Homo sapiens: one gene and its partner. The protein of the gene in region 1 interacts with the protein of each later gene in a pairwise test. Each region holds a gene or a part of one and is shown on either strand. Other genes may lie near its edges. The genes, in order: MAP3K13 and GLO1.

Region 1 (3,830 bases):
TAAGATACATAAGGCACCGTTATCAATAAATATTGGTTTCCATCCTTGCTGGCTTTAGCCAGGCCACTAAAAAGAGTACTTCTTTTAAAACACTGTTTAAATGATAGCCAACTAATATCATGAATGAGACCATGATGTTTGGGATTCATTACATTAAAAGGCTAATATATATGCTGGGATTTCACTAGTGCTGATAAGGAAAAGCAGAAATAAATCCAAGCTTAAGTAAATTCCACACCAGTCCTGTTTTACTTGTCATAGTAGTTATCTGAAAATGTGGCCTGAGGCAAAGTGCTCTCTGCCAGCCTTGAAGATGAATACAATCCGGTACCAAATTGACAGCTTCACATTAGATCGAATTCACTTGCAATAACCTGTTCAGAACTTTAGAAAATTAAAGACTTAGGGTTTCAGAGGCTTTAATGATCTAGGGACCTATGTTTAATGATGAGAGGCTTACGAGCGTGGTGGCGGGCGCTTGTAGTCCCAGCCACTCGGGAGGCTGAGGCAGGAGAATGGCGTGAACCCGGGAGGCGGAGCTTGCAGTGAGTGGAGATTGTGCCACTGCACTACAGCCTGGGCGACAGAGCGAGACCCCATCTCAAAAAAAAAAAAAAATGATAAGAGGCTTCATCCTCAAATAGTATCAGAATTGAGGAGGCTGTAAGGCAGAAAGCATCTGACTCTATCCCCTTGCTTCTCCATTTGAACCAGGGATTCCTTCACATTTACCATGCTCACAACCCCAACACCAATGGCTATTTACCAAATAGCTCAGAGCTTACAATTGCTTTTGAATACCATCCTCCATGCCCTGGTTTTGCACGTAATATGTAAAATTTATATAACTTAGGAGTTTTGATTTAACAGTGTTAGTCTTAGTGAAAATGCATAAGGATTAAAATATTATGGGATATATGAGAGAATTGGAGAATTGATATCATACACCAGGAAAGTGAGAGTAGGCAGTAAGCCCCTAAAAGAGGGAACTTTTTATGGGAACTTCCTCTCTGCCTCTGTTGGTGTGACAAGAGAGGATGGACTTGAGAGGAGACTAGAAAAATATAACATTAGAATTTTTCTGAAATCTTCTCTGAGACAAAGTTGTGGTCACAGAGCCTGCAGATTTAATGTAAGTAATGAGATCTCTTGTTACAGCAAGTCAGATTGATCTCTGTCTTCCCAAAGTCAGCTTGAAACCTAAAGAAGCCAACGCTGCTGGGGTTGGGAGTGTTATTGCTAATAGAGGGAAAGGCTTACTGGGTAACCCAATTACTACTCTATTCTACGGCTTCCTGACTCCTTCCCTCTAAGATTAATTCATAAGGAGAACAAGTTGGTTAAAAAGGAGACCATTCAGAGAGGCCTTCAGGTAGTTCATGTCCTTTACATGTATGCACTGGATGGCAAAAGCAACAGGGTAAGAATGTGAACGGAAGAAATGAACACTACACAATCATGTTTACTTGCAAGTAAAGCAAGGAGGAGGTTGTTCAGTCAACTAAGCACTGTAATAAATATTGCTGAGAATGATGGTGATAAATAAGAGCTGTTTTGAAGTTTATAATGAAGGATTGATTTATACCGTCCATGGAGGAAAGGCAGGATTCATTGTGAGTCCCCTACCTTCACATAATGAGGTAGAATGCAGTAACCTTTGGTTCAGAAATTCTAGGTTCGAGTCCTAGCCCCATGACTTTGGGCTAATCTCTAGTTTTCCTTACATAAAATAACAATACTTGTTACGTATCCCACACAGTTTTTGCCAGGATCAAAGATGTGATAATGGATTCCCCCTAAGATATTATAAACCATGAAAACACTATGCAAATATATATATGTGTGTGTGTATATACAATAAATATATAGTTTTTTTAAATTTTTATTATTTTTTGAGACAGGGTTGTGCTCTGTGGTCCAGGCTGGAGTGCAGTGGTGTGATCATGGCTTACTGTAGGCTTGACCTTCTGGGCTTAAGTGATTCTCCCACCTCAGCCTCCTGAGTAGCTTGAACTATAGGCTCATACTACCATGCCTGGCTAATTTTTAAATTTTTTGTAGAGATGGGTTTTCACTATATTGCCCAGGCTACAAATATATTTTGAAAAGAGATTAATCCTTTGCTTATCTAACCCAAAATGTGATGATAAATAATAAAAATAATGTTTAAAAATAGGAGTTATACTGAAATAAATCATTTTATCAATTTCTTTCTTCATTCAATTTGGGGAACTAACTACACACTCCTCTTAAAGTGATTGGTAGCCAAGAAATCATTTTGAAAACAGAGATTACTAGAAATAGCCCTGCTTCTCTTACATAGCCAGTGTTTATTTTTCCTATGGCCATTGTGAACCTTGTAATTGTTTATTTCCTCCTTTGCTTAGACACTAGAAGCTCAAAGCCAAATCTGTAATCCACGTCTACAGAATCTTACGGCATATAATTTGTGAACAATTTTTAGTTCTAATGTTTTTACTTTTCCTTTGCCTCTGCTTCTTTTTATTTTTATTATTTATTTATTTTTATTATTTTTTTTTTGAGACAGAGTCTTGCTCTGTCACCCAGGCTGGAGTACAGTGGTGTGATTTCAGCTCACTGCAACCTCCTCCTCCTAGGTTCAAGCAATTCTTCTGCCTCAGCCTCCCAAGTAGCCGGGACTACAGGCACCTGCTACCATGCCTGGCTGATTTTTTGTATTTTTAGTAGAGACAGGGTTTCACCACGTTGGTCAGGCTGGTCTCAAACTCCTGATCTCAAGTGATCCACCCACCTTGGCCTCCCAAAGTTCTAGGATTACAGGCGTGAGCCACTCCACCCAGCTAGCCTGTTTCTTATTTATCCATTTTATCCTGTTGTATACATTTCTGAAACTCAGTTTAAAAAGTTTTTTGAACACATGGAAAACAACAAATCAAGCCTTCTAGCGGGAAGGTCTGGCATTAGCTATCTGAGATGACAGAAGGTGAATACTTCAGATAATAATGAATTTTGTTTCACAGTTGTATGATTTAAAAGCACCAAAAAGGAAAAGTGGTTTCAGATACCTGGACGTATCTGCCCTACAGGTAACCAGGTAGGTCAACAATAACCCAAGAGATGCGCAAACAGAATTACCCACTGTGCTGATTGAAACTGAACTAAAGGTATGATGTCTGAAAACGTCAACTGAGGTTGATAAAAATTCTGTATTTCAAAACAACAAACCAAAATAGCTGAAACATTAGCCCCAGAACTCACTTAGGTGATTTGAGATCACGATGAATAATTTTATGGAGGTGCAAATAATTCATTCCACTTGCAATTCCTGTGGACCAGTCTACTAGCAATCGAGGTGTGATCTTCCTGCCAGCTCGTAAGACCTCGTAGAGTTGTCCATGGGCACAGTATTCCATGATAATACAATAACATGGGGCCTGAGTACAAACACCCCTTCCAAGAAAACATAAACATGTACATCAATACACACATACAAGTATACATATGTATATTTAAAGAATATTTAATAAAAACCAATTCTATACCCGAATTATTTTAAAAATGTGTATAGATAATAGTTCCTGATTCTCAAATTAGCATGGAAACTTCTCTAGTCTACAGGTTTCTCTATGATGCACATAGACAATTTTTGTTTGTTTTGTTCACTCTGGCTATCTATATGCTGTGCTGTGTCTGGTGCCTTTTCTGTGGGACCCTTCCATTCCGGGACAAAGAGCACACTTTTCTGAAGTTTGTGCAGGCTGGATACTGTGTTGTTTTAGATCATTAAGAATAATTTGGGAGGCCAAGGCGGGTGGATCACAGGGTCAGGAGTTCAAGACCAGCCTGGC
Region 2 (3,830 bases), on another chromosome or scaffold:
ATTTATGATTAACAAACTTCCAAAGAAGATTTGTCCAGACCCAGGTGATTTCACTGGAGAATTCTGCCAAATGTAAAAGAAGAATTAACATCAATTATACACAACCCCTTCCAGAAAACTGAAGACGGGAGAACACTTCCCAATTCATTTGATAAAGCTAATATTACCCTGATACCAAAAACAAATGAAGACAGTACAAGAAAACTACAGACCAATATCTCCAATGAATATAAATGTAAAAACCCTTGACAAAATGTTAGTAAACAGAATTCAACAGTATATATAGAAAGAATTATACACCTTAACCAAGTGAGGTTTATATCTAGGATGCAAGCCTGGTTCAGTATACAAAAATCAGTCAGTATAATCCACCATATTAAGAGGGTAAAGAAGAATCACATGATCATATCAGTTGGTACAGAAAAGGCATTTGACAAAATTCAACACTCATTCATTATTTTTTTTAAGTTCAGAAAAAAATAGGAATGGGGGCATTTCTTTAACTTGATAAAGAGCTTCTCTTGAAAAGTTAGAGCTAATATTACACTCAGTGGTGATGCTTTCTCCCTAATTTTGGTAATAAGACAAGGATGTCTGCTGTTACCACTCTTATTTGACAAAGTGCTGAAAGTTCTAGACAGTGCAGTAAAGCAAGAAAAGGAAATAAGAGACATATAGGTTGGAAAGGAAGAAATCAAACTGTCCTTATTTGAAGATGACATGATTGTCTACATAGGGAATAATAAGTAATTTACAGAAAACTCCCAGAATTCATAAATGAGTTCAGCAAGGTTGCAGGGTACAAAATAAACATACAGAAATCAATCGCGTTTCTATATACTAGCAAAGAACACACAGGCACCAAAAATTAAAAAATACATTACCATTTACAATTGCCCAATAAAATGAAATACTTAGATATAAATCTAATAAACATTTACAGGACACATATGCTGAAAACAGCAATGGCGATGCAAAAAGTCATAGATCTAAATAAATGGAGAGATTTATTGTGTTCATGATTGGAAGACTCAGCACAGTAAGGATATCAATTCTCCCCAAATCAATATACATGTTTAACACACTCCTTATCAAACTTTTTTAGACAGAGACAGGGTTATTCTAGATTGAAAGGCAAAAAAACTAGAATAACAAACCATTTTGGAAAAGAATAAAGTGGGAAGAATTTTTCTACCTGATTTTAAGACTTACATAGCTACAGTAATCACTACTCTGTGGTATTGGCAGAGAGATAGAACATTGAAACAAAATAGAGAACCCCAAAATATACCCACACTAGTATGCCCAACAGCTTTTTGACAAAGATGAAAAAGCAGTTCACCAGAGGGAGGATAGCCTCAACAAATGGTGCTGAAGCAATTGGACATCCTTAGGTTAAAAATGAAGCTCTACTCAATTCTCATCCCTTATACCAAAAAAAAAAAAATCCATTTACTGGTGCTTAAAGGGGCCTTAATCCTTTGGTTCACATCCTTGCCTCACTTTTACAGTTTTGTAAGGATTGTATTGTAGGCAGGTAGGACATGCACTAGAAACATCCTTGATTGTACCTTTAAAGTTTTCTTGGCGGTTGCGGTGGCTCACACCTGTAATCCCAGCACTTTGGGAGGTCAAGGCGGGTGGACCACAAGTTCAGGAGTTTGAGATCAGCCTGGCCAATGTGGTGAAACCCTTTCTCTACTAAAAATATAAAAATTAGCTGGGCGTGGTGGCTGGTGCCTGTAGTCCCAGCTACTCAGGAGGCTGAGGCAGGAGAATCGCTTGAAGCTCGGGAGGCGGAGCTTGCAGTGAGCCAAGATTGCGCCACTGCACTCCAGCCTGGGTGACAGAGCGAGACTCCATCTTAAAAAAAAAAAAAGTTTTCTTACAGTAGTTTTCTTAATTAAATTTGGAGAATGACACTTCCCCTCCCCCCGAAAAAAACCTTATTATTTCTATTGTCCACCTTTTGATAAGGCACAGGAGCAAATCTTTGTCACCCAGTAGCCATCCCTGTAAAACCAAAGATAGTTTAGGCATAAAAGACACCTTATTTTTATTGTTCTAAATTTAAAGCATGATAAGGGAAAGACAAAATTAAGGACTATCAGGTGAGACAAGACATGAGCATAGCATAAGTCTTACTTTTTAAAACAGGAGATACATGTATTTTAAACGATATTTTAGAACCATACCAATAAAGCAATAATTTTTAGGAACTTAACTTTTTAAAACAGGAACTTTTTCTCAAGATCATGCAAGTGTTCACAAGAGGCACATGGAGTTAACAGACTATTTTGGTGATAAAAATAAAACTGTTATCTGAGCATAGAATAACTTGATCATTTTCTTAAAAATAAGCCCTTCTTGTTTTTATATCCATTTAACAATTTGTAGCAAAGGATTTATAAGCCTCTATTTTATCAATAAATTCACTAACGTTGAATATATCTTACTTTTTTTGCCACGTATAGACTTTTTAAAGTGAATTTTAATATTCTTTATGTGTATGTGTTTAGGCAGATACAGTACATAGTTCTCTTAATAATAAAGTTAAAGTCTGTAACATTAATTTTAAGATATAATTAATCTCAATAGCATATTAAGTGGTATTTGTTTTCATATGCATGTGTGTGTGTATATATATATAATGTTTTTAAAAGCTAATATACCATTTTATATATTCCCATGCCATTAGACTTAGTATACCATCTGTATATATCTCCATGCCATTTAATATACCTCGACGCAGCATTTTAAATGTTTTTCATAATATTCTTTTATGCCTGTGTCATACTATCTAACTATTCCTTTGTTAGAGGCAGTTAGTGGTTTAAAAGCAAGGACTTTGGAATCAGATTGCTTGGGCCAGAATTTTTTCTCTGCCACTTACTTTCTCAGCAGTAAAATGGGGATGATAATAATATGTATCTCATGGGCTTGTTGTGAAGATTACATGTATTAGTTTCTTTGAATCTCTTAGAACAGCATCTGGCACATAGTTATTGTGTAAGTGTTGTGATGGATGCCTTTGTACATAAATCTTTGTCAGAGTAATTATTTCCTTAGAATTTTAGAAAGAGAACATCTTGGTCAAAGAATATGAATTCTTAGGCCAAGGCAGGCGGATCACGAGGTCAAGAGATCGAGACCATCCTGGCCAACATGGTGAAACTCTGTCTCTACTAAAAATACAAAAATTAGCCGGGCTGGGTGGCGGGCGCCTGTAGTCCCAGCTACTCGGGAGGCTGAGGCAGGAGAATCGCTTGAACCCGGGAGGCGGGTTGCAGTGAGCCAAGATCTCACTGCTGCACTCTAGCCTGGAAACAGAGGGAGACTCTATCTCAAAAAAAAAGAAAAGAATATTAATTCGTGCACCACCACTACTGGCTGATTTTTTGTATTTTTAGTAGAGACGGGGTTTCACCATGTTGATCAGTCTGTTTCTCGAGCTCCTGACCTCGTGATCCGCCCGTCTCAGCCCCCCAAAGTGCTGGGATTACAGGCGTGAGCCACTGCACCTGGCCAAGAATATGAATTCTTGAGGACTCTTGATATTCCAGTTGTTTTCCAGAAAGATTGTAAGATAAGGATATGATAGACTATGGGATAGAATAGTTAAGGTTGTCTAACTTTGGCAAGTACTTGGCATGGCATCTACAACAAAAAATACATGCTGTGCCTAAGATATATGGATTTGAGTATAGCCTGTATAGTGTGAACAGAAGTAATGATAAAGTCGTTGGTAAAGTACCAATACTAATGTTGGTACTAGAAAGATGTTGAAGAAACAAAACATAAACAGGGTCACTACAAAGCAGATTTTAAAA

What was found.
Region 2: the proteins of MAP3K13 (region 1) and GLO1 interact in a two-hybrid assay, tested with the Homo sapiens proteins (one large-scale study listed by BioGRID and IntAct).

What each region holds. Positions count from the first base shown.
Region 1 is NC_000003.12:185,443,047-185,446,876, reverse strand, and holds part of MAP3K13 (mitogen-activated protein kinase kinase kinase 13), read right to left. Parts: intron 3,433-3,830; coding exon 3,241-3,432; intron 1-3,240. UniProt on the Homo sapiens protein: Activates the JUN N-terminal pathway through activation of the MAP kinase kinase MAP2K7. Acts synergistically with PRDX3 to regulate the activation of NF-kappa-B in the cytosol.
Region 2 is NC_000006.12:38,689,362-38,693,191, reverse strand, and holds part of GLO1 (lactoylglutathione lyase), read left to right. Parts: intron 1-3,830. UniProt on the Homo sapiens protein: Catalyzes the conversion of hemimercaptal, formed from methylglyoxal and glutathione, to S-lactoylglutathione. Involved in the regulation of TNF-induced transcriptional activity of NF-kappa-B. Required for normal osteoclastogenesis.